Linked DNA regions of Homo sapiens: all the other regions are linked to region 3. Evidence: fine-mapped expression QTL. A gene starts in region 3. Each other region holds a variant in brackets. All regions are shown on one strand. Distances are between the middles of the regions. Region 1 overlaps TNFAIP8L1 (TNF alpha induced protein 8 like 1). Region 2 overlaps DPP9 (dipeptidyl peptidase 9). Region 3 holds the start of MYDGF (myeloid derived growth factor).

What was found. PIP is the estimated chance that this variant, and not a neighbour inherited with it, causes the effect.
Region 1: its variant is fine-mapped to the expression of MYDGF in whole blood (TOPMed, PIP above 0.99).
Region 2: its variant is fine-mapped to the expression of MYDGF in whole blood (TOPMed, PIP 0.98).

What each region holds. Positions count from the first base shown.
Region 1 is chr19:4,639,847-4,648,113 of GRCh38, reverse strand. All of the region lies in intron 1 of TNFAIP8L1 (TNF alpha induced protein 8 like 1), which reads right to left. Among named protein-coding and RNA genes, the nearest start is that of TNFAIP8L1, 4.5 kb to the right of the region's middle. RefSeq lists an enhancer at 7,598-8,267. The variant G/T (reference allele first, on the strand shown) is at 4,377.
Region 2 is chr19:4,699,689-4,707,688 of GRCh38, reverse strand. It overlaps DPP9 (dipeptidyl peptidase 9), which reads left to right. Exons shown (of 22, transcript NM_139159.5): 5 at 1,719-1,831; 6 at 3,385-3,558; 7 at 3,635-3,803; 8 at 4,973-5,086; 9 at 5,534-5,662; 10 at 7,412-7,473. Among named protein-coding and RNA genes, the nearest start is that of DPP9, 20 kb to the left of the region's middle. RefSeq lists enhancers at 2,758-3,258, 3,259-3,759, 2,782-3,981. The variant C/G (reference allele first, on the strand shown) is at 4,961.
Region 3 is chr19:4,665,852-4,674,118 of GRCh38, reverse strand. MYDGF (myeloid derived growth factor) reads left to right here and starts at 3,777. Exons shown (of 6, transcript NM_019107.4): 1 at 3,777-3,958; 2 at 5,474-5,524. The coding sequence starts at 3,785. RefSeq lists a silencer at 3,388-3,777.

The DNA of each region.
Region 1 (8,267 bases), 26 kb after region 3:
GTGTCCTGAGCCAGCGACCTGTGCCTATTCGTCATTCCCACCTGGTACTGGCCAGGTTGCCTGCTTTGCAGAAGAGACCACAGAGGCACTGGGGATACAGCAGGCATCAAAACAGATCCCATCCCTGCCTTGCTAAGGCCCTGGCTTTCTAGACCCCAAGCTGCCTCCTCATTACAAAATCATCTGGGCCAGGCAAGGTGGCTCACACCTGTAATCCCAACACTTTAAGAGGCCAAGGCAGGAGGATTGCTTGAACTGGGAAGTTCAAGACCAGCCTGGGCAACATAGCGAGATCCCATCTCTACAAAAAAAAATTTTTTTTAATTAGCCAGGCATGGTGGCACGGGTCTGTGGTCCCAGGTACTCGGGAGGCTGAGAGGGGGAGAATCGCTTGAGCCCACGAGGTCAAGGCTGCAGTGAGCTATGATCACACCACTGCACTCCAGCCTGAGCAACAGAGCAAAACCCTGTCTCAAAAGGAAAAAAAAAAAAAAAAAAAAAAAAGCCAGGTGCACTGACTCACACCTGTAATCCCAGCACTTTGGGAAGCTGAGGTGGGCAGATCACCTGAGGTGAAGAGTTGAGATCAGCCTGGCCAACATGGTGAAACCTTATCTCTACTAAAAATACAAAAAAAATTAGCTGGGCATGGTGGCAGGCACCTGTAATCCCAGCTACTCTGGAGGCTGAGGCAGGAGGATCATTTGAACCCGGGAGGTGGAGGTTGCAGTGACAGTGAGCCGAGGTCTCCAGCCTGGGTGATAGAGCGAGACTCCGTCACAAAAAACAAAAAACAAAACAAAAAAACCCAGTCCGACGGCTCCTCAGACATCTAAACACACAGTTACCATAGGACCCAGCAATTCCACTTTGGGGGATCTACCCAAGAGAAACACAAGCATACACCACGCAAACACTTGTTTTGCACGTCACAGTTTACAGCGGCGTGACCCAGGGTAGCCTGCAAGTGGAAGCAACTCAAATGTCCGTATGTCCATTAATGGGTGAATGAATAAACAAAATGAGATCGGTCCAAACAATGGAATGTTCTCTAGCCATAAAAGGAACGAGGCTCACACACAAGCTCCAGCGTGGATGCACCTTGAGGACATCATTCCCAGTGACAGAAGCCAGACACACAAGGCCACAAAGTGTGTGATCCCACTTCTATGAAATGTTCAGGAAGGGCCGGGCACCGGCTCACGCCTGCAATCCCAGCACTTTGGGAGGCCGAGGCGGGCGGATCACAAGGTCAGGAGATCGAGACCATCCTGGCTAACACGGTGAAACCCCGTCTCTACTAAAAATACAAAAAATTAGCGGGGCGCGGTGGCGGGCACCTGTAATCCTGGCTACTCGGGAGGCTGAGGCAGGAGAATGGCGTGAACCCGGGAGGCGGAGCTTGCAGTGAGCCAAGATCACGTCACTGTACTCCAGCCTGGGTGACAGAGCGAGACTCCATCTCAAAAAAAAAAAAATGTTCAGGAGAGGCCTGTCCACAAGGGCAGAAAGCGGACTCGCGGGTGCTGGAAACTGGAAGAGGGGAAAATGGAAAGCGATTGCTAAATTGGGAACCAGGTTTTTTTGGGGTGAGTGGTAATGGAATGTTCTGGAATTAGAGATTCCAGAAATTTATGATGGTCACATAACTTTCTGGTTATAAATTGTACACTTTAAAACAATGATTGGCCAGGTGCGGTGGCTCATAACTGTAATCCCAGCAGTTTGGGAGGCAGAGGGAGGAGGATCAATTGAGGCCAGGAGTTCAAGACTAGCCTGGCCAACATAGTGAGACCCGGACTCAACTGAAAAAAAAAAAAAAAGTCGGCCGGGCGTGGTGGCGAGCACCTGTAATTCCAGCTACTCGGGAGACTGAGGCAGGAGAACCGCTTGAACCTGGGAGGCGGAGGTTGCAGGGAGTCGAGATTGTTCCACTGCACTCCAGCCTGGGTGCAAAAACTGTTCCCCTGCTGGAAGGAGGAGGTGCCGGTAACCAATAAATAGAAACAAACAAGTTAATTTCAGGAAGAGAGATATGGGCCACGGGGGTGGGGGATGAAGTTCAGGGTAACCAGGAGGGCCTCTCTAGGGAGAGGCTGGGCCAGTTGAACTGGGCCTGCAATGACAGGGTCTGCGGGAAGATGCTCCAGGCAAAGGGCACAGCCTGTGCAAAGGCCCTGGGGCAGGGCTGTGTCACGCTTGTTACAGGAACAGCCAGGAGGCCTCAGCCCTGTCCACAGCCTCTGTCCAGGTCCGTCCACAGCTCTGAGGTCTCCCTGCTGTGACCCTTGGCAGGCCCCATGCATGGGGGCAGCTTTCCCATCTGCAAAATGGGTGACCAGGCACCAACTCCCTGGCTCCCTTGACTCTTCCCCTGCTCCCTATATTCCTTTTTTTTTTTTTTTTTGAGACGGATCCTCCTGCCTCAGCCTCCCAAAGTGCTGGGACTACAGGTGTGAGCTACCACCCCTGGCTTAAATGTACTTTATTTAACTATAAGTTTATGTATGTATGTATGTTTGTATGTATTTTGAGATGGAGTCTTGCTCTGTCTCCCAGGCTGGAGTGCAGTGGCCAAATCTCAGCTCACTGCAACCTCTGCCTCCCGGATTCAAGCGATTCTCCTGCCTCAGCCTCAGCCTCCCAAGTAGCTAGGACTACAGGTGCATGCCACCACACCCAGCTGGTGTATTTGTATTTGTACAAAAATACAAATTTGTGTATTTTTAGTAGAGACGGGGTTTGGCCATGTCGGCCAGGCTGGTCTCTAACTCCCGGCCTCAAGTGATCTACTCGCCTCGGCCTCCCAAACTGCTGGGATTACAGGTGGGAGCCACCACGCCCAGCCTTAACTATAAGTTTATATTCTCCCACGTTAAATAATGGCTGCGTTTAACTACCAGATGGCAAAATTCCTGAAAACACAGGAGGTGGCTCTGGTGAGCTGGCTGCAATTATGTCACAAGTCCCTGCCGTCCCCACCCCTGTCCCATGAATTCTTCATGCACCTCACAGAGTGTCAATAATTGATGGATCTGCTCTGCAGGTGCACGCCAGCCGCTCCATCTGTCTTGTCTCAGCCCCGGCTGCACTCAGTCCGGGGGCCCAGGGGGGGCCTCAGGCCTCTTCCCGCCGAGGCCAGTGATCCCAGGCCTCATCCCACCGACTCCCAGGGTCCCACTGCACCAAGCCCTTTAAGACCCATGACTCACAGGCTGGGCGTGGTGGCTCATGCCTGTAATCCCAGCACTTTGGGAGGTCGAGGCGGGCAGATCACCTTAGGTCGGGAGTCCAAGACCAGCCTGGCCAACATGGTGAAACCCCATCTCTACTAAAAATACAAAAATTAGCCGTGTGTGGCACACGCCTGTAATCCCAGCTACTCGGGAGGCTGCGTCACGAGACTCGCATGAACCTGGGGGGCAGAGGTTGCAGTGAGCTCCACTTCATTCCAGCCTGAGAAACAGAGTGAGACTCTATCTCAAAAAAAAAAAAAAAAAAAAAAAAATCCATGACTCAGGACTTGCAAGCCGGTGTCCATTTTATTTTTATTTATTCATTTTTTTTTTAAGACAAGGTCTTACTCTGTTGCCCAGGCTGGAGTGCAGTGGTACCATTATAGCTCACTATAGCCTCGACCTCCTGGGCTCAAGTGATCCTCCCACCTCAGCCTCCTGAGTAGCTGGGACTACAGGTATGTGCCACCATGCCTGGTTAATTTTTTTTTTTTTTTTTTGGTAGACATGGCGTCTTGCTATGTTGCCCAGGCTAGTCTCGAACTCCTGGGCTCAAGTGATCCTCCCGCCTTGACCTCCCAAAGTGCTGGGATTGCAGGCGTGAGCTGCCACACTTGGCCAGTGTCCATTTTATTTTATTTTTATTTTATTTTTTTGAGACGGAGTTTCACTCTTGTTGCCCAGGCTGGAGTGCAATGGCATGATCTCAGCTCACTGCAACCTCTGCCTCCTGGGTTCAAGTGATTCTCCTGCCTCAGCCTCCCAAGTAGCTGGGATTACAGGCATGCGCCACCACGCCCGGTTAATTTTGTATTTTTAGTAGAGACGGGGTTTTCTCCATGTTGGTCAGGCTGGTCTCGAATTCCTGACCTCAGGTGATCCACCCGCCTCGGCCACCCAAAGTGCTGGGATTACAGGCATAAGCCACCGTGAACGGCCAATTTTATTATTTATTTATTTTTTGAGATGGAGTCTCGCTCTGTTGCGCGATCTCAGCCCACTGCAACCTCCACCTCTCCAGTTCAAGCAATTCTCCTGCCTCAGCCTCCCAAATAGCTGGGATTACAGGCACCTGCCACCATGCCTGGCTAAGTTTTGTATTTTTAGTAGAGATGGGGTTTTGCCATGTTGGCCAGGCTG[G/T]TCTCCTCCTGGGCTCAAGCGATCCTCCTGCTTCGGCCTCCCAGAATGCTAGGATTACAGGCATGAGCCGCCATACTTCGCCAGTGTCCATTTTAGTTATGGCAAAAGAGAGAGGGGAATCTGTTGGCCCAAGTTGGGGGTGACATCAGTTGTTCTCAAACTGGGTTCCCCAGCACCCTCAGGACCACCCCATGGATGGGCAGGGGCCAGCTGCCTGCTGGGTTGTGGCGGGGAGCCTGGACACTTTCCACTGTGGCCAGATTTCCACTGGAGAAAGGGTTCGAGGGCCAAACATGAATTATCAGCTACCCACAGCCCATGACTCTGCAGAGGAGGGGACAGGCTTGCCTCAGCCCAAGCAATAAATTATTAGAGTGCAGAGAAGCCTAGGATCACCTGGCAGGAGGTGCATCCAGCCCCTAAATGTGTCCCAATGCAACCCACTTTTTTTTTTTTTTTGAGACAGAGTCTCACTCTGTTGCCCAGGCTGGAGTGCAGCGGCGTGATCTCGGCTCACTGCAACCTCCGCCTCCTGGGTTCAGGTGATTCTCCTGCCTCAGCTTCCTGAGTAGCTGGTATTACAGACACGTGCCACCATGCCTGGGTAATTTTTGTATTTTTAGTAGAGATGGGGTTTCACCATGTTGGTCAGGCTGGTCTCCAACTCCTGACCTCAGGTGATCCACTTGCCTCAGCCTCCCAAAGTGCTGGGATTACATGAGCCACCCTGCCTGGCCTAACGCAACCCACTTCTTATCTCCCCCACAGCCTCCATCCTGGTCCCCTCGTCCCTCAGCACCATCTATCCCCATGCCCCCCGTCTGTCCTCCCTGTAGCAGCCAATGGGTGCCTGTGAGTACCTGAGTCAGGTTCCATCCTTCCCCTGCCCACCACCCTCCATGGCTCCCACCTCCCTTGGGGTCAAAGCCAAGTATTCCTGGCAGCCCATAAGATCCTGCGCACCCTGCCCTGTCCCCTCCCTGCCCTCCCCTCCTCCCTCTCTCCTCCTCCTCACTGCTCCAGCCCCACGGGCCTCCTTGCTGCTCCTCTACCATGCCAGGCGCCATCTTGCCCCAGGGCCTTTACACAACCTGTGCCCTCTGCCTGAGCTGCTCTTCTCCCAGGTCTCCACATGGCTGTTTCCTTCTTGTCATCCAGGTCTGGGTTTACATGGCCCCTCCTCAGGAAGCCCTCCCAGATCCCCCATCTATTTTATTTATTTTATGTGTATATTTTTAATTTTTTTTTTTTTTTTGAGATGGAGTCTCACACTCTGTCAACCCAGGCTGGAGAGCAGTGGTGCAATCTCGGCTCACTGCAACCTCTGCCTCTTGGGTTTAAGTGTTTCTCCTGCCTCAGCCTCCTGAGTAGCTGGATTACAGGCACCCACCACCACGCCCGCCTCATTTTTGTATTTTTAGTAGAGACAGGGTTTTGCCCTCTTGGCCAGGCTGGTCTCGAATTCCTGACCTCAGGTGATCCGGCCACCTCAGCCTCCCAAAGTGCTGGGATTACAGGCGTGAGCCACGGCGCCCAGCCAATTCTCTTCTTTTTCTTTGAGACAGGGTTTCACTCCTGTCGCCCAGGCTGAAGTGCAGTGGCATGAGCTCGGCTCACTGCAGCCTCAACCTCCCTGGGCTCAGGTGATCCTCCCACCTCAGCCTCCAGAGTGGCTGGGACTACAGGCCTGCGACACCACACCTGGCTAATTTTTTTTTCTTTGTTTTAAGTAGAGACAGGGTTTCACCATGTTGCCCAGGCTGGGAAATTCTCTAGATGGACCTGCAAGTTTTTGGTTATAAGGAAACTGAGTCACAGAGGGTCAGGAGCTTGCCTGTTTATAAAGCAGTGATGTGGCAGAATCAGAATTTGAACCCAGCCTTTAACCTAGTGCAATCCTTTCCTCATCCTAGTCAATGGCACATTTGGGGTTCAAGTCTCGTCTCTCCCAGAGCCCACCCCAGAGGGGAAGGATCGAAGCCTTAGGAAGCTTCTAGAAGTACTGTGTCCTGTAATCCCCTCCTCGGGCTTTTAACAATATCTTGTTGAATCTCCCCCACCCCTCAAAGCACCCTCCCTCCCCACAGTTATCTCAGCCCCACAAGAAAAAGGAGATGACCAGCCCCATTGGACAGATGGGGAAACTGAGGCCTAGAAGCTGGGGATTTACAAGATCCCAAGAACTCTGCCAGAGGTCCCTGCGTCAAAGCTCGAGCGGGTGTGATTCCAGGGAGGTCATCTGCTGAGGGGTGTCGGGAGATGCTGGGAAGGGGCAGGCATGCTGTGGAACTGGGCCGTTCCTGCCTCTCGCTCTGCCTCCTTGCCCTGCTCCCCGTCTGTAACACCTGAGCTGTACCTGGGCAAGTGTGAGTCATTTTTTAGCGTTGACGTCTCTCTGGGAGGAGTGTTCCCCTGTCAACGGCTGGAGTTTTGTCCTCAAGGCACCCTTTCGTGGCCCCATTGGACAGACAGGGACACTGAGGCCTCCGGAACCCACCATACTGAATTGTCAAGCAATCAAAAGACCCCTCACCCACCTGGGCTGACCCCTGGGGGAACGGGGATGAGGAAACTGAGGCTCTGGGGGCACCTGACCGTCGGTCCAAGGCCACACAGTGGGAGGGGCCGTACCGCGGGGCCTCAGACCTGCACCCGTCTGCAGAGCCACCCCACCATTGGAGCAGGGTTCAAGTCCCCCCCCCGGCCCCATATTCCCTGCAGGGGTCCAGGCACTCACCCACCACCTGTATCCCAGGCTGCTCCAGCCTCTGGCCAGTGCCCGATTCACCCAGGTGTTTGTGTGGCTGGAGACAGCCCTTTGTTCACGGTTTCCATAGGTACAGCGTCCCTGAGCGGCCCCTCCTCTGCCCCTCCCAGCCCTTGCCTGTGCAGGTCCTGGGTCCGGCCCATCCAGGGAGCTTGTTATGTTTCAAAGTTGGCGCCCTCGGACCTGCCGTAGTGGCAGAGGGCACAGCCCATGCAAAGGCCCTGAGAGAGGACCTCGCCTGGGGTGTTGGAGAAACAGGAGGAGGCCAGTGTGACTGGGGCAGAGCCACAGCGAGAGTCAGGCAGGTTATGAGCAGGGCCTGTATTCCTGCATCTGATCCCCCAGCAGCCCTCAACTTGGGGAGTTACGACCCACTCCTGTTTTACAGATGAGGAAACTGAGGCTCCGCAGAATTGAAAAACTGGTTCAAGATATCATGCGGGTGGCAGAGCTCAAACCTAGATTGGTCCAAGCTCCGCCACCACTGGGCTGGCCCCCCTGGGGCCTCCCAAGGCGTTCATCGCCTCCAGCTGAGCTGGGACTGGCTCAGGAAATAAACTCTGGCGGCCTGTTTACACCTGGGGCTGCTCCTCCACCAGCCCTTCCCCCCTCCATAGAGAAGGTGCTGGGAAATGTGAGGATGCAGAGAAAACAGATTCTGTCCTGCCTCTGTCCCCACTTCCCTGGACAAACATTGGAAGCATTGGCCTCTTTCTAGGCCTTAGTTTCCCATCCCAGGAAATGGGCCTAGTTCGACTTCACAGAAAAGGCCAGGAGGCGGCAGGTGTCCTTCAGATCACCTGCCAATTACCTTAGCAGCGACGGTCCCAGTTCACAGCTGGCAAAACTGAGGCCAAGTCCCCACAGGCCACTTGGGAGCTCATTAGGGGCCAGTCTGGGTGGGCCCGGGCTGGCCTAGGCCTGGCTCCCCGCCACCGATGCCTGGACCGATGCCTGGTTTAGCTAGAAGCTACAGTCATGCCCACCTCCGCACGGCTGGCCCAGCTGCCCACCGCCTGGAATGCCCTCAGGGTTCTGGAATCTGGCCTGAGCACCTGCGGCCCTACAGTTAAAGGGGGCAGAGTCCACTAGAGTCCACATGGGGGATGGGGGTGCTGGTCCCA
Region 2 (8,000 bases), 34 kb before region 3:
GTGCCACTGCACTCCAGTCTGGGCGACAGAGCGAGACTGTGTCTCAGAAAAAAAAAAAAAAAAAAAAAAAAAAAGCGAGTATGAGGAGGTCCTGAAAAGAGGACAGGACAGCACCAATCCGAGGCTTCGTCCTGGAGAAACTCAGGGTTGAAAGTAGAGCAAGGAGGGGCCAGGGCACCGGGCTGTCTGTGACTTGTCGTTAGTCATGTCACGTTTGTGGGCTACTGGACAGCTTTATGCTTGGAGGAGCCCTGTCCCGGTTTTTCAGTGGTGTCGCATGGAGAGGGGAAACCGAGGCTTCCCAGGGGTTACCATCCTGCTTCTGCCATTCCCTTTTCTAATGACAATTGTACTGTCATCCAGCAGATCTAAGACATGACCATTTGGAAAATACACAGTTATTTTATTTGCCACTAAGGACCTGATTGCGCCTTCCGCAGTAAGACCCATCCCAAGCCCAGAGACATGCGTAGGTGGAAAGCCGCGGCTTACTGATGAAATACGCTGATTTCACAGAGGGTCACACACATTGTGCCGAGAGCTTTACGTTTCTTACCTCATGTAATCCACCCAAAACCCTCGCTTGGCAGCTCTCACTACCGTCATTTTCTACAGAAGCTTCGATTAAATCAGTGGTTTGAGGTCGGGGTGATTCTGCCCCTGCAGGGGACACTGGGAGATGCCTGGGGATATGTGTGGTTGTCACGACTGTGGGGTGCCCCTGGCATGGAGTGGGCGGAGGACAGGGATGCTGCTCAGCGCCTCGCAGTGGTCAGGACAGCCCCACCCCGGAGGATGGTCCAGGCCCGAATGTAATTAGGGGCGAGGTTGGGAAATACTGGACCAGGTGCACGCTTCCCCATTCCCTTTTTTGAGACAAAATCTTGCTCTGTTACCCAGGCTGGACTACAGTGGCGCAATCTCGGCTCACTGCAACCTCTGCCTCCCAGGTTCAAGTGATTCTCCTGCCTCAGCCTGACGAGTAGCTGGGATTACAGGCGCGTGCCACCACGCCCGGCTAATTTTTGTGTTTTTAGTAGAGATGGGGTTTCACCATGTTGTCCAGTCTGGTCTCGAACTCCTGACCTCAAGTCATCTGCTTGCCTCGGCCTCCCAAAGTGCTGGGATGACAGGCGTGAGCCATGTCGCCTGGCCCTCATTCCTTTTTGATGGTTTTGCCCTCCCTCTAATCCTATATTAAATTCTTGTCGTCTGCAAAAGCCTTGATAAAGGGCCTTGGAGAGCCGAACCCAACCTGTTGAGAGTTGGATGTTTGTTTCTGACTGCCCTTCTTGTTCTCTTGTGTGCGATTTATTTTTCTTTCTTTTTTCTTTTATTTTATTCTTTTTTTTTTTTTTGAGACGGGGCCTTGCTATGTTGCCCAGGCTGGTCTCAAACTCCTGGGCTCAGGCAGTCCTCTCGCCTCGGCCTCCCAAAGTGCTGGGATTACAAACAAGAGCCACCATGCCCAGCCTCTTGTGTGCTGTTTCTTCGGTAATTCAGGCCGTGAGATTCAGCAGAAATATCTCAGGTGGAAGGCCCTACTGCCTACTTAAGCAAACCCAGGATCCATAGCTTTCCGGGGAGGGCTGTCCCGCCGGCGGCCTGGCAGAATGTTCTAGAAGCAGAGGGAACCAGCTGGGCCCAGCTGCAGGCTGAGGGCGTCTCCCCATCCTGAGCCAGGGTACCCGTTCTGGGTGTTTCCTTTCTCCCTTTAGGAATGCCATATGGCAGCCGAGAGAACTCCCTCCTCTACTCTGAGATTCCCAAGAAGGTCCGGAAAGAGGCTCTGCTGCTCCTGTCCTGGAAGCAGATGCTGGATCATTTCCAGGTAAGCTGTGCTATTAGGCGTGGGCCCTACCGTGGGCGAGGAGGTGGCAAAGGCCAGCCCCACAGGCCATACATGCCTTCGGTCACCTCTCTGCCCCACCGGCTGTGAGTTCCCACAAACCCTCCGTCCTGTGGACTCTGGCGGGTGAGCCTTCCCTCCTCCCCCTGACCACCTGTACTCAAGCGACAGAGAAACTCTTACCAAAAGCATCTCTTCCTTTTAACGGCATCACCAAAGATTGGGAATTAACTTGGCTTGAGGCCCTTTTAGAGAGACTGGTTAATCATCAATCTCATCCAGTGTTGGCTCTCTGGGGATAGTTGAGGGAGGAAAAATGCCTTTTGCATTGATTGGCGTGTTTTTGTGTTTGATGATTGGGAGGCCGAGGCAAGAGGATTGCTTGAGCCCAAGAATTTGAGACCAGACTGGGGAACACAGCAAGAGCCTGTCTCTACAAAAAATAAAATTAGCCAGGCCTGGTGGCACTCGCCTTGTAGTTCCAGCTAATTGGTAGGCTGAGATGGGAGGATCTCTTGAACCCAGGAGGGCAAGGCTACAGTGAGCCGTGATCTCACCATTGCACTCCAGCCTGGGAGACAGCGAATCCCAGTCTCTAAAATAGTAACAATATAGCAATAAAAATAACATAACATTATAACATAGTAACAACATAAACATAACAATGTAACAATAATGATATCTAACAGTGGCTGAGATCGTGACACTCCCACTTTCTCCACCACTGGTTCACTGGCCCTCACTTTGGCCTGTCTCTGAGTCCCCAAGCCAGTGTCCTTGTGTTTACACTGCTTTCCACAGAGTGTAGGGGTAATTTTGCTTTTGATTCTGCTTTTTTTTTTGAGACAAAGTCTCACTCTGTCACTCAGGCTATAGTGCAGTGGCGCAATCTCGGCTCACTGCAACCTCTGCCTCCCGGTTCAAGTGATTCTTCTGCCTCAGCGTCCCAAGTAGCTGGGACTACAGGCGCGTGCCACCACACCCGGCTAATTTTTGTATTTTTAGTAGAGACGGGGTTTCACCATATTGGCCAGGCTGGTCTCGAATTTCTGACCTCGTGATCTGCCCACCTCGGCCTCCCAAAGTGCTGGGATTACGAAATTGAAAGCTCTTGATGGGAAGGGATTGTGAATAGGGTAGGAGGGTGGGGAGTCTGTAAGAATGGCACTAGGGACCCGGAGAGAGTACTCCGGTGGTGTGGGGCAGGGACAGCCCCTCCCAGGGGCCCCCATCTGCTATGGAGAGGGTCTGTGGGGAGGGAACTCAGGAAGTGAGGAGGCTTCTGGCCCCAGAGTCTCCCCTGCCACCTCCTAGGACACTCAGCCAGTCCTGCAGGGCCAGGTTCGCTGGCAATCTTTGGCCACCCACTGTGTCAAGGGCTCCGGCAGCCAATTCTGCCCAGTACAGGAAGTTCTCTCTGGCGAGGCCCGAAGTCAGATTCCCTGGGAATGCCCCAGCCCGAGGATCTCTGCCCTGGCCAGCGGGAGATCCTCTTTGCCCACTGACGCTGCCCCCTGTCCCCTGTATGTTTCCAGGCCACGCCCCACCATGGGGTCTACTCTCGGGAGGAGGAGCTGCTGAGGGAGCGGAAACGCCTGGGGGTCTTCGGCATCACCTCCTACGACTTCCACAGCGAGAGTGGCCTCTTCCTCTTCCAGGCCAGCAACAGCCTCTTCCACTGCCGCGACGGCGGCAAGAACGGCTTCATGGTGAGCCCTGGCCCTGGCTGTGTGCGGGGGTGGCGTGGAGGGCCCCTCCCCCTGAGCTGGGCGTCTCTGTCCTCAGGTGTCCCCTATGAAACCGCTGGAAATCAAGACCCAGTGCTCAGGGCCCCGGATGGACCCCAAAATCTGCCCTGCCGACCCTGCCTTCTTCTCCTTCATCAATAACAGCGACCTGTGGGTGGCCAACATCGAGACAGGCGAGGAGCGGCGGCTGACCTTCTGCCACCAAGGTGGGGCCAGCCCCTCCTGTGCACGGCCACCATAGCCACCTGGCCAGCTTCCAGAAAGGCCCCATTGCCCCCACAGCCAGGGTCTTCCTGCACACACCCCTCACAAGCCACCCTCCCGTGCATACCTTCTGTAGCCTACCATGTCTCCCGGGAGGTCCTGGCGTCCCTGCCGCTCTGTAGTTTTCTTTCTTTCTTTCTTTCTTTTTTTTTTTTTTGAGAGAGTCTCACCCATGTGGGAGTGCAGTTGCCCAGGCGGGAGCGCAGGCGGGAGTGCCCAGGTGGACTGCAGTGGTATGATCTCGGCTCACTGCAACTTCCGCCTCTTGGGTTCAAGTGATTCTCCTGCCTCAGCCTCCCGAGTAGCTGGGATTACAGGTGCCCGCCACCACGCCTGGCTAATTTTTTTTTTTTTTTTGTATTTTTAGTTGTGACGAGGTTTCCCCATGTTGGCCAGGCTGCTCTTGAGCTCCTGACCTCAAATGATCTACCTGCCTCGGCCTCCCAAGGTCCTGAGATTACAGGCATGAGCTACCGCACCCTGCCGCTCTGTGGTTTTCTGCTGCAGGCGTCAGCCCAGCCACGGTGCTCTGGACCCTCTTCCAGGTGCCCCTGGGCATTTCTGCCCCTGCACACCTTCCCCTCCACTCTGCCTGTCCAGCCCCATCAAGTCAAGGCCACATCTCACCTGCTTCCTGCGTGTTCTCTCCACTCCCTTGCTCATCAGAAGTGACCCCATCCTTCCTTGTCTTGGTTTCAAGTCACTGATCGCTGCCTCTCCGTCCCATAAGCCCGGGCCCCACTTTCCAAACCTGGCCACTCGGCGATGTCCAGAGACGTTTTTAGACGGCACACTTGGGCGGGGGTGCTCCTGGCTTGCCATGGGGTGAGTGGAGGCCAGGGACACTGCTCAGCACCCTGCTGTGCCCTGGACGGCCCCACCCCAGAGACCAAGAGGGCCCCAGTGTCCACAGTGTGGGGTGGAGCAACCCTGCTTGAAAGCAGTCGGCTCCGAGCTCTCCCTCCCTCTCCCTCCCTCTCCCTCCCCCTCTCCTTCCCTTTCCTTCCCTCCTTCTCTCTCCCTCTCTCTCATGCTCTCCTTGAGCCCCTGGCTGTCCCCAGTGTTAGCAGGCTGCTCACCCCTTGTTGATGCTCTCCGT[C/G]CCTCCCCCTAGGTTTATCCAATGTCCTGGATGACCCCAAGTCTGCGGGTGTGGCCACCTTCGTCATACAGGAAGAGTTCGACCGCTTCACTGGGTACTGGTGGTGCCCCACAGCCTCCTGGGAAGGTAGGTCCCTTCCATTTTTCAACATGCTCCCGGGCGTGCTTTTCCTCCTGGAATCACAGGCTGTGTCCTTCCTGCGCCTTACTCCTTTCACCTCAAACCACCTCCACAGTCTGTCAATACCAACACCTAGAGAGTTCCTTAACGACTGTAGACATCGCTGTTGCCCTAAGAGGGGACACAGTTCAGCCCGTTACACCCCACGTGGCCACTTCCCATGCCAGTTCATGCTGGGAGTAGCCCTGCTCTGCTTCCCACTGCACAGGGGAGGAAACTGAAGCCCAGAGAGTTGGGACTGGCATAAGGTCTAGCGAATGGCAGAGCCGGGGTTCTGGTTTCAGAGCCCTCGGTGCCCATCTTCAGGCCCCGGTGCTGCAGGGGGCGGGGGGTGCTGATGGCAGGGACTCTGCCTCTGGCACCCTCAGCAGTTTTTCCACCACCCCACCCAAGGTTCAGAGGGCCTCAAGACGCTGCGAATCCTGTATGAGGAAGTCGATGAGTCCGAGGTGGAGGTCATTCACGTCCCCTCTCCTGCGCTAGAAGAAAGGAAGACGGACTCGTATCGGTACCCCAGGACAGGTGAGTGCCCGGTACATGTGAGGGGCTGGGCCGGGGATCTGAGGCCCCTGGGGCATGGCTGGTGAGGTGCACTGTCCCCCAGGCCCTCTGAGCTGCATGTGTGTGCTCTGGGCATCTATGGGGGTGTAGAAGGAAGGCTTCTGCCCTGCAGGGGCCGCCCCTTTCTCCTGGCTTACCATGGCCACCGGATCATATTGCTCAGAAGTGAGCAAGCTGTCTCTGGAAGGGATGAGGGCACAGGTATCTCAGGCTTCCAGGGCCAGACGAAGGCAGGCTCTCTTGCAACTGCCCCACCCTGCTGCTGGAGCACAGAAGTGGCACGTGCAGGAATGGGCGTAGCCATGTGCCAAGGAAACTTGACTGAAGTTTGGATTACAAATAATTCACCTTGAGATACATATGATTTTCATATTAGCGAAAATGTCACTCTTGTTTTGTTTGTTTGTTTTCTTAACCGTCTCAGAACGAAAGAAGGATTTTCAGCCATACAAAAACAGAAGGCAGGCTGGATTTGGCCCTCACACTACAGTGGTGTTTGTTTGTTTGTTTGTTTGTTTTTGAGACAAGGTTTCACCTTGTGGCTCAGGCAGGAGTACAGTGGTGCAATCACAGCTCACTGCAGCCTCCAACTCCTAGGCTCAAGTGATCCTCCCACCTCTGCCTCCCAGGTAGCTGGGACTACAGGTGTGTGCCACCATGCCCAGCTAATATTTAAATTTTCTGTAGAGATGGAGTCTTGCTTTGTTGCCCAGGCTGGTTTCGAACTCCTGGCCTCAAGTGGTCCTCTCGCCTCGGCCTCCCAAAATGCTGAGATTACAGACGTGAGCCACACGCCCGGCCACTCCCAATTCTTAAACATCTTTCCAATTATTTAAAAATATCTCTGGAGCCAAACAGAACACACGTGCAGCCCAGATTCCGCGTTCAGGCCTTGGGTTTGCAACCCCCATGGGACCATATAAGAGCATCGTTATTGCCCATACTCCGCGAGTGCCTGCTCTGTGCCGTGCTAGATGGAAGCTTCCTGTACGGTCTTTCCAACTCCCACTGCAAATGAGCTAAGTCAGTCTTTTCCCCCTCGTATGACAGATGAGAAAACAGGCTCAGAGATGTCACCTGCCCTGGAGGCCAGAGCCACGAGGGCTGGAGTTGAGTTTCTCGTAGGTCTAGCCAAAAAAATAAGCATTCTCCGCTCTGCTGTGGCCCGCGCCCTCTTTCGGAGCCTGAACTAAGTCCCACTCTTCAGAAGCCTCTTGGGTCCCTTATTCTGTCGCCATTGGCCTCCGGAGGGCGCAGGTCTGGCTGTCACACGGGCTCCCTGGTTTTGCATGGGACACACCCCACTTGTCACGTTGTCAGTTTTACTGTGATGCCTCGGGCTTCACCGTCTGCTCTGGAGCTCTCCCAAGGCAGGGATGGCATCTTCCTGGTATCTGCGGCCCCTACAAGCCCCAGCTCTCAGCACAGGGTGTGGCCCGTGTTTTTAAATGAGAAAGCCAGATGCCACATCACTGTTGGGAATGCGATCCAGGCCCAAAGTCAGAAGGTCCCCACCTGAGGGTGTCATGCCTGTTCCAGCAGGACGATGTGCCTACAGACAGACCGTGGGACACCTGGCTTCTCCTGCCTCCCCCACTCCAATTGTACACCTCTCTGTGGACGTCACCCCACAGCCCAGGCCCCCCGTGCCGGCTCTCGGCACACACGGGTGATGCCTGCCTGGTGTTCACCTCACTTCGGTTTTTGCAGGCAGCAAGAATCCCAAGATTGCCTTGAAACTGGCTGAGTTCCAGACTGACAGCCAGGGCAAGGTAAGGGGGCCTGCTGCATACCAGATAATCTACTAGATGATGCGGGGAAGGGCCGGGTAGGCAGCTGGGTGGATGGGCAGGTCACTCACCTCCCTCTCGGGGGCACTCCCCAGGCCCCAGCCCTGCCGCCCGGTCCGCCTAGCCACAGGCCTTCCCTGTGTGTCTCTGGACCTGTGCCTAGAATGCGGCGTGGCGAGCTGGCCTCCCTGCCTCACAGAGTGGGTCCTGAGACTGGAGGCCACGCCGCGGTAAGGAACAAGCACCGGGCAGGGGCCCTGCGAGGACAGGCGCGGCAGGTGCTCCCAGGCCACCTCGGGAGTGGGTGACGTGTGGATCCAGAGCTGCCCTCTCTCCAAGTTTCCAGAACAGAGAACTCCGTGGGGCAGATGGCTGGGGGACCCCAACTTCGGACGGGCTGTTTCCTCCAGCGTTTCAGGCAGATCCTCAGGTCCGTTCACCGGACCCGTCAGCTACTGTGGGGAGGAGAGTGTTCTGGATCCCCATCCCCCCGACCTCCTCAGATCTAG
Region 3 (8,267 bases):
CCAGGAGTTTGAGACCAGCCTGGGCGATATGGTGAAACCCCATCTCGACTAAAAATTGAAGAATTAGCCCAGCGCAATGGTGCACGCCTGTAGTCCCAGCTACTCAGGAGGCTGCAGTGGGAGGATCACTTGAGCCCTGGAGGAGGAGGAGGTTGCAGTGAGCTGAGGAGGTTTCTCCAGCCTGGGCAACAGAGTGAGACCCTGTCTCACACAGACACACACACACACAAAAAGGAGGCCAGGCACAGTGGCTCACACCTATAATGCCAGCACTTTGGGAGGCCAAGGTGGGTGAATCATTTGAGCACAGGAGTTTGAGACTAGCCACAGCAACATGGCATAAACCCCATCACTACAAAAAAATAATAATAATAATAGCTGGGTGAGTGTTGCATGCCTTGTAATCCCAGCTACTTGGGAGGCTGAGTGGGAGGATCATTTGAGCCCAGGAGGTTAAGGCTGTAGGGAGCTGAAACTACCACTGCATTTCAGCCTGGGCGACAGAGCAAGACCTTGTCTCAAATTTAAAAAAAAAAATAAATAAATAATCTAATATTTGTGTGATCGAATCTTGTCCTTTAGGACTGACAGATTTCATATCATGATTAGTGGGATCCGTGGAATAATTTGTTGTTTGCTCCTCTGTCACCCAGGCAGGAATGCAGTGGTATAATCACAGCTTACTGCAACCTCGACCTCCTGGGCTCAAGTGATCCTCCCACCTTGGCCTCCCAAAGTGTTGAGATTACAAGAGCCACTGTGTCCAGCCTTGTTTTCTTTTCTTTTTCTTTCTTTCCTTTTTTTTTTTTTTTTTTTGGACACAGGGTTTCGCTCTGTCACCCAGGCTGGAGTGCAGTGGTGTAATCTCAGCTCACTGCAACCTCTGCTTCCATGGCTCAAGTCATCCTCTGGCCTCAGCCTCCCAAGTAAGTGGGACTACAGGCACAAGCCATCATGCCCAGCTAATGTTTTTGTATTTTTTATAGGGACGGTGTCTTGCCATCTTGCCCAGGCAGTTTTTAAACTCCTGAGCTCAAAGTGATCTGCCTCCCAAAGTACTGGGGCCAGCCTTGTTTTTTCTTTTAATCCTTTTAGTGTGATGATTTGTGGTGGGTGGGTGAAACTTGGGGCCGAAACCTTTCTGGAAAGAACACACACACGCATGCACACGCATACGCACAACCTGCCTGGGTTCCGTAGCAGACTCCCAACAGCTCACAACTGAAATTCCTTGTTAGCCGCAGAGCTCGGCCATGCATCGAATCCTTCATGGTGACAGGCTGAAAGTTGAACACCGTGGTAAGGTAATGGGGACTCCATCAGTGGAACCGTGCTGTGTCACTCACCTAAGGAACAGGGCTGCTCTGTGCTTGTCCAGTTTATGGAGACAGTGTCTCATGGGTCCAGAACAGACAGCTGCATGGAGGAAGAGATTTGTTTGTTTATTTCTTTATTTATTAAGACGGAGTCTTGCTCTGGGACCCAGGCTGGAGTGCAGTGGCATGATCTCAGCTCACCGTAACCTATGCCTCCTGGGTTCAAAAGATTCTCCTGCCCCAGCCTCCCAGGTAGCTGGGATTACAGGCGCCCACCACCATGTCCGGCTATCTTTAAAAAATAATCTTAAAATATCTTTAAATATATATATATATAAGTATATATATGAATATATGAATATATATAAGTATATATGTGAATATATGAATATATATAAGTATATATATGAATATATGAATATATATAAGTATATATATGAATATATGAATATAAGTATATATATGAATATATGAATATAAGTATATATATGAATATATGAATATAAGTATATATATATGAATATATTAATATATATATTCATATATATGAATATATATTCATATATATGAATATATGAATATATATAAGTATATATGAATATATGAATATATATATAAGTATATATGAATATATGAATATATATTCATATATATGAATATATGAATATATATTCATATATATGAATATATAAGTATATATGAATATATGAATATATAAGTATATATGAATATATGAATATATATTCACATATGTGAATATATGAATATATATTCACATATGTGAATATATGAATATATATATTCACATATGTGAATATATGAATATATATATTCACATATGTGAATATATGAATATATATATTCACATATGTGAATATATGAATATATATATTCACATATGTGAATATATGAATATATATATAGGAATGGGGTCTCACTATGTTGCCCAGAATGGTCTAGAACTCCTGAGGTCAAGCAATCCACCCACCTTGGCCTCCCGAAGGGTTGGAATTACAGGCATGAAGTATCACGCCCGGCCAATAAATTTCCTAACGCAAGCAGGTATCCCAATTTAGAACAGGCTGCCACTGCAGAAAGGCAACTGGCTTGGACTTCTGTCATTGGCAGAGGAGTCAGCCTCCACGGGGATCCTTCTCACCTCCCTGGGGCTCACCACCCTCCGTAGCTATGGAGTAGAGTGATTTAATTCCTCAAAGGGTGAATTATAACCCATCTTAGGAGTCATCTATGACGTTTTCTCTCTGGATTCTGTTTTTTGCCAGTTGGGAAGGACTAGAAACACCAGCTTAATTATTGACCCCCCAGGCCTGGCCACTGGTGTTTTCTTGAAATGTTAAGCCATTTGTAACCAAAGAATGACTTCCTTCTCTAGTTGAAAACCTGGGATCTAATGATAGCAATAGCTACAATATATAATTCTCAGTTCATTCGTCCCGGTGTGGGAACTTAATTCCCTCACTTACTCCTCCCAACAACTCCTTGAGGTAGGGATTATTTTCTTTTTAACTTTTTATTTTGAAATAATTTTTGCCTCCCAGAAAATCTGCAGAAACTGTAGGGTTTCCTAATACGCTTCATCCAACTCCCCCTAATGTGAACATCGTCTGTAACCCCTAGGACAAGCCAGGTTATCAAAGCCAGGAAGTGAACACCCACATAATCCTATTAACAAATACACAGACTGATCGAGCGTGATGACTCACACCTGTAATCCCAGCACTTTGGAAGGCCGAGGCAGGCGGATCACTTGGGGTCAGGAGCTCAAGACCAGCCTGGCCAACATGGTGAAAACCTGTCTCTACTAAAAATACAAAAATTAGCCAGGGGTGGTGGTGAACACCTGTAGTCCCAGCTACTCGGGAGGCTGAGGCAGGTGCATCACTTGAACCTGGGAGGCGGAGAGTGCAGTGAGCCGAGATCGCGCCACTGCCCTCCAGCCTGGGCAACAAGAGGGAAACAAAAGCAAGCATCCTGCTTCTCATCCTACTTTCCCTCTGCTAATTTTGAATATCGATGCACACACATCTTGGCTGCAACGATTATGAGAAGTTCGCCTAATGGTGACCTTCGATTTCCCTCACTCCCTGTACATCTCCTAACTGAAAGAGCTGCAGTCAGTCACACGGCTGGTGAGGGACCCTGAGACCCCAAAACGAACTCCATTACCACCTGAGGGACCCTCCAAGGATCGCCGGGCTACGCAGGGTCCCTAGGGTACGAGGCCGCCCCCTCGGCGGCCCCGCCCCCTCGGCGGCCCCGCCCCCTCGGCAAAAGTCCCGCCCCCTCGACAAAGTCCCGCCCCCAAGATGGTGGCCCCGGGCGGTGGACAGGGCGGGGCGTGCCGGGTCACGTGGACAGCCGACGCCGACGTGGCCTCCGGCGGACGCTCCACGTGTCCCTCGCCGCGCCCCGTCTACCCGCCCCTGCCCTGAGGACCCTAGTCCAACATGGCGGCGCCCAGCGGAGGGTGGAACGGCGTCGGCGCGAGCTTGTGGGCCGCGCTGCTCCTAGGGGCCGTGGCGCTGAGGCCGGCGGAGGCGGTGTCCGAGCCCACGACGGTGGCGTTTGACGTGCGGCCCGGCGGCGTCGTGCATTCCTTCTCCCATAACGTGGGCCCGGGGGTACGTGCCACCGCCGTCCCGGATATTTGAGTGCTGGCAGGCCCGGGGAGGGGGCGCGGAGCATTGGGGGCGGGGCCCGAGGAGGGGGCGCGGACCGCGGAGGTGGGTACTGAAGAAGGGGTGCGGATTGTTAGGGTCGGAGGCTGAGTGGGGGGCGCGGGACCGTGAGGCCGGGGTCATCACTGGGGCAGGACTGAACTCATAGGGAGCGGGGCCTTGTGGGCCCCGGCGGCGTTGAGGGGGCGTGATCACCTGTCACCTGTCGCCTGCCTGGAGTGTCCAGGCACCCCTGCCCTCCAGACGCAGAGGTGGGGAGGGGTCAGTGATGGGAGCGGCAGGAGGCTAAAGGGCATCTGCCCTCCTGGGCCTGAAGGAAATCAGTCGCTGCAGCTCCGAAGAGGGAGGAAGTGCTCCTTCCTTCCATTGCACAAGGTCCCCCCTCACCGAGGGTGTGAGGCCGGGCCCTCAGCCCTGTACTCAGCTTGTCGGCAAAGTCCTTTCCCCTCTCAGCCTCCCTTTCCCCGCCTGTAATAACAGTATCTTTACTGTTTTTTGACTATTTCTTTTTAGACTTGCGTGCAGTGGCGGGATCTCGGCTCACTGCATCCTTAGCCTTCTGGGTTCAAGCAATTCTTCTGCCTCAGCCTCCCCAGTACCTGGGATTACAGACGTGTGCCACCACACCCGGATAATTGTTGTTGTTGTTGTTTGAGATGGAGCCTCACTCTGTCGCCCAGGCTGGAGTGCAGTGGCGCGATCTTGGCTCACTGCAACCTCTGCCTCCCAGGTTCATGCCATTCTCCTGCCGCAGCCTCCCAAGTAGCTGGGACTACTAATCTTTGTATTTTTAGTACAGATGGGATTTCACCATGTTAGCCAGGCTGGTCTTGAACTCCTGACCGCAGGTGACCCGCCCACCTCGGCCTCCCAAAGTGATGGGATTACAGGCGTGAGCCACTGTGCCAGGCCAGTTTGTTGACTACTTCCTTATAGTTAGGTGTGATGCCAAGTCCTTTATATGTTAGGCCCAAGTTACAGATGAGAAAATGCTTCACATAAAAAAGAGAAACAGAGAGAAACTAGAGGCTCAGAAAAGTTTTCACTTGTCCAGGTCCCATGGCAAAACCCATCTCTACAAAAATACGAAAAATTAGCCAGGTGTGGTAGCAGGTGCCTGTAATCCCAAGTACTCAGGAGGCTGAGGCAGGAGAATCGTTTGAACCCGGGAGGCAGAAGTTGCAGTGAGCTGAGATCATCCCACTTCAGCCTGGGCGACAGAACAAGACTCTGCTTCAAAAAAAAAAAAAAAAATTAGTCGGGTGTGGTGGTTGCGTACCTATTGTCTCAGTTACTTGAGAGGCTGAGGCAAGAGGATTACTCAAACCTGGGAGTTCGAGGCTGCAGTGAGCTGTCATTGTGCCCCTGCACTCCAGCTTGGGTGACAGCAAGACCCCGTCTCTTAAACAAAATAAAAATTTCCTTCTACCAAACCTTTTTTTTCCTTCCATTCTCTAGGACAAATATACGTGTATGTTCACTTACGCCTCTCAAGGAGGGACCAATGAGGTGAGTTGTTCAAAATTCCCTCTAGCTTACTGTGACAGTATCCATTGTTGTAGGGAGATGTTCTGTAGCAGACAGCAGGGTTGGGTCTCACCTATATCACCTTACACTCATTGAATGACTCTTCCTAAACCAATAAAAAGGGAGAGTATTGGCATTAAACAGTGACGACAGATTCTGCTGTTATTATTCTACAGAGCAAGCAAATGTCTGGACAGAAGGAGGGAGGGGAGATGGGAGTCTGCCATCCCCATGAGCATCTGTTGGGATGTTGTATTTTATGTGCAGTGCAACAAGTTATCACAGCTTAGGGGCTTAAAACAGCACCCATTTATTATCTCATAGCTTTGTAGGTCAGAAGTCTGGGTCAGCTCAGTTGTGTGCTTCATAAAACCAAACTCAAGGTATTTTGGGAGGCTGAGGCGGGCAGATCACCTGAGGTCAAAGTTCGAGACCAGCCTGGCCAACATGGCAAAACCTCATCTCTACTAAAAATACAAAAATTAGCTGGGCATGGTGGCACATGCCTGTAGTCCCAGCTACTCAGGAGGCTGAGGCAGGAGAATCACTTGAACCCAGGAGACGGAGGTTGCAGTGAGCCAAGATTGTGCCACTGCACTCCAGCCTGGGCAACAGAGCGAGACTCTGTCTCAAAAAATAAATAATAAATAAATAAAGGTATCACAGGCAAGGCATGGTGGCTCATGCCCCATCTCTACAGAAAATAAAAAAATTAGCCCAGCGTGGTGGCGTGCACCTGTGGTTCCAGCTACTTGGGAGACTGAGGTGGGAGGATCGCTTGAGCCCAGGAGGTCAAGGCTGTAGTGAGCCGTGATTGTGCTACTGGGCAACAGAGCAAGACCCTGTCTCAAAAAAAAAAAAAGTCTCTGGGCTGGGAGAAGAATCCTCTCCTTCAAGCTCTTAGTTGGCAGAATTCAGTTACTTGTGGTTCAGGGACCAAGGTCCCGGTTTCCTTGCTGGCTGTTGTCTCCAGCTGGTGGCAGAAGAGCCAGTAAAGATGATTTGGGCCAGGCACAGTGGCTCATGCCTATAATCCCAGCACTTTGGGAGGCCAAGGCTGGCGAATCACCTGAAGTCAGGAGCTCCAGACCAGCCTGGCCAACATGGTGAAACCCCGTCTCTACTAAAACTACAAAAATTAGCCGGGCGAGCCAGGCGCACTGGCTCATGCCTGTAATCCCAGCACTTTGGGAGGCCGAGGCGGGTGGATCACAAGGTCAGGAGATCGAGACCATCCTGGCTAACACGGTGAAACCCCGTCTCTACTAAAAATACAAAAAATTAGCCGGGTGTTTTGGTGGGCACCTGTAGTCCCAGCTACTGGGGAGGCTGAGGCAGGAGAATGGCGTGAACCCGGGAGGCGGAGCTTGCAGCGAGCCAAGATCGCGCCACTGCACTCCATCCTGGGCGACAGAGCGAGACTCTGTCTCAAAAAAAAAAAAAAAAAAAAAAAAAGGGTGATTTGAAGCACATGGACACATACGCCACTGCTGCCCTTGAGGGAACTGCAGGGCAGGGAATACACGCGGCCTCTAGGAGCTGAGAACAGCCTCTGGCTGGCAGCAAGGAAATGAAGACTTCAGTCCCGCAACCAAGAGGAACTGAAATCTGCCACAACCACAAGAGCTTGGAAGAGGACCTTGAGCTACCAGTAAGAGCCTAGCCCGGTCAACACCTTGAGATGGGTTTCGCCATGTTGGCCAGGCTGATCTTGAACTGCTGACCTCAAATGATCAGCCTGCCTCGGCCTCCCAAAGTGCTGGGATTACAGGTGTGAGCCACCGGTGCCCGGCCTCCTAGAGATTTTTCTGTATCCTATGTAAAGCGCTTCAGTTGCATGGACGTGTGGAGTTGACAATCCCGTACTAATGGATTGAGGGTTACTTCCAACCCAGTCCGTGAATAACCTTGGCCAGGGTTCATTGTACAAGTGCAGTTACATCTGTGGGAAAACCACCCAGAAGTGGGATTCATGGGTCCATTTTCTTAAAAGTAAAACTGGGCTGGGCGCGGTGGCTCACGCCTGTAATCCCAGCACTTTGAGAGGCCAAGGCAGGTGGATCGCCTGAGGTTGGGAGTTTGAGACCAGCCTTGCTAAGATGGTGAAACCCCATCTCTACTGAAAATACAAAAGTTAGCAGGGCGTGGTGGCACGCGCCTGTAATCCCAGCTACTCAGGAGGCTGAGGCAGGAGAATCGCTTGAACCCACGAGGCAGAGGTTGCAGTGAGCTGAGATCGCACCACTGCACTCCAGCCTGGGTGACAGAGCGAGACTCCATCTCAAAAAAAAAAAAAAAAGTAAAACTGTATGTTTTGAGATCATGGTAGATTTACATTCACTTGTAAGAAATCCTACAGAGAGATCCAAGTACCGTTTAACCAGGTTCCCCGGTGGTAACATCGTGCAAGAGGCCAGTCATTTTAGAGATGGGGTCTCGCTATGTTGCCCAGGCTGGTCTCGAACTCTTGGGTTCAAGTGATCATCCCACGTTGGCCTCCCAAAGTGCTGGGATTACAGGCATGAGCCACCATGCCCAGCCTGCATTTTCCATTTTGCTTGTACCTGTTGCAGCTCCACCGACAACCTGGAATAGTCTTGGTTTTCACACCCATATGGTGTGTTAGCAGACAGGAGGGCTTTTGCCCTTCTGACCTGGGAGAAAAAGGTATCTCACGATAGTTCAGCTTGTGTTTATTTATTTTTCATAAATGATATGGGACATC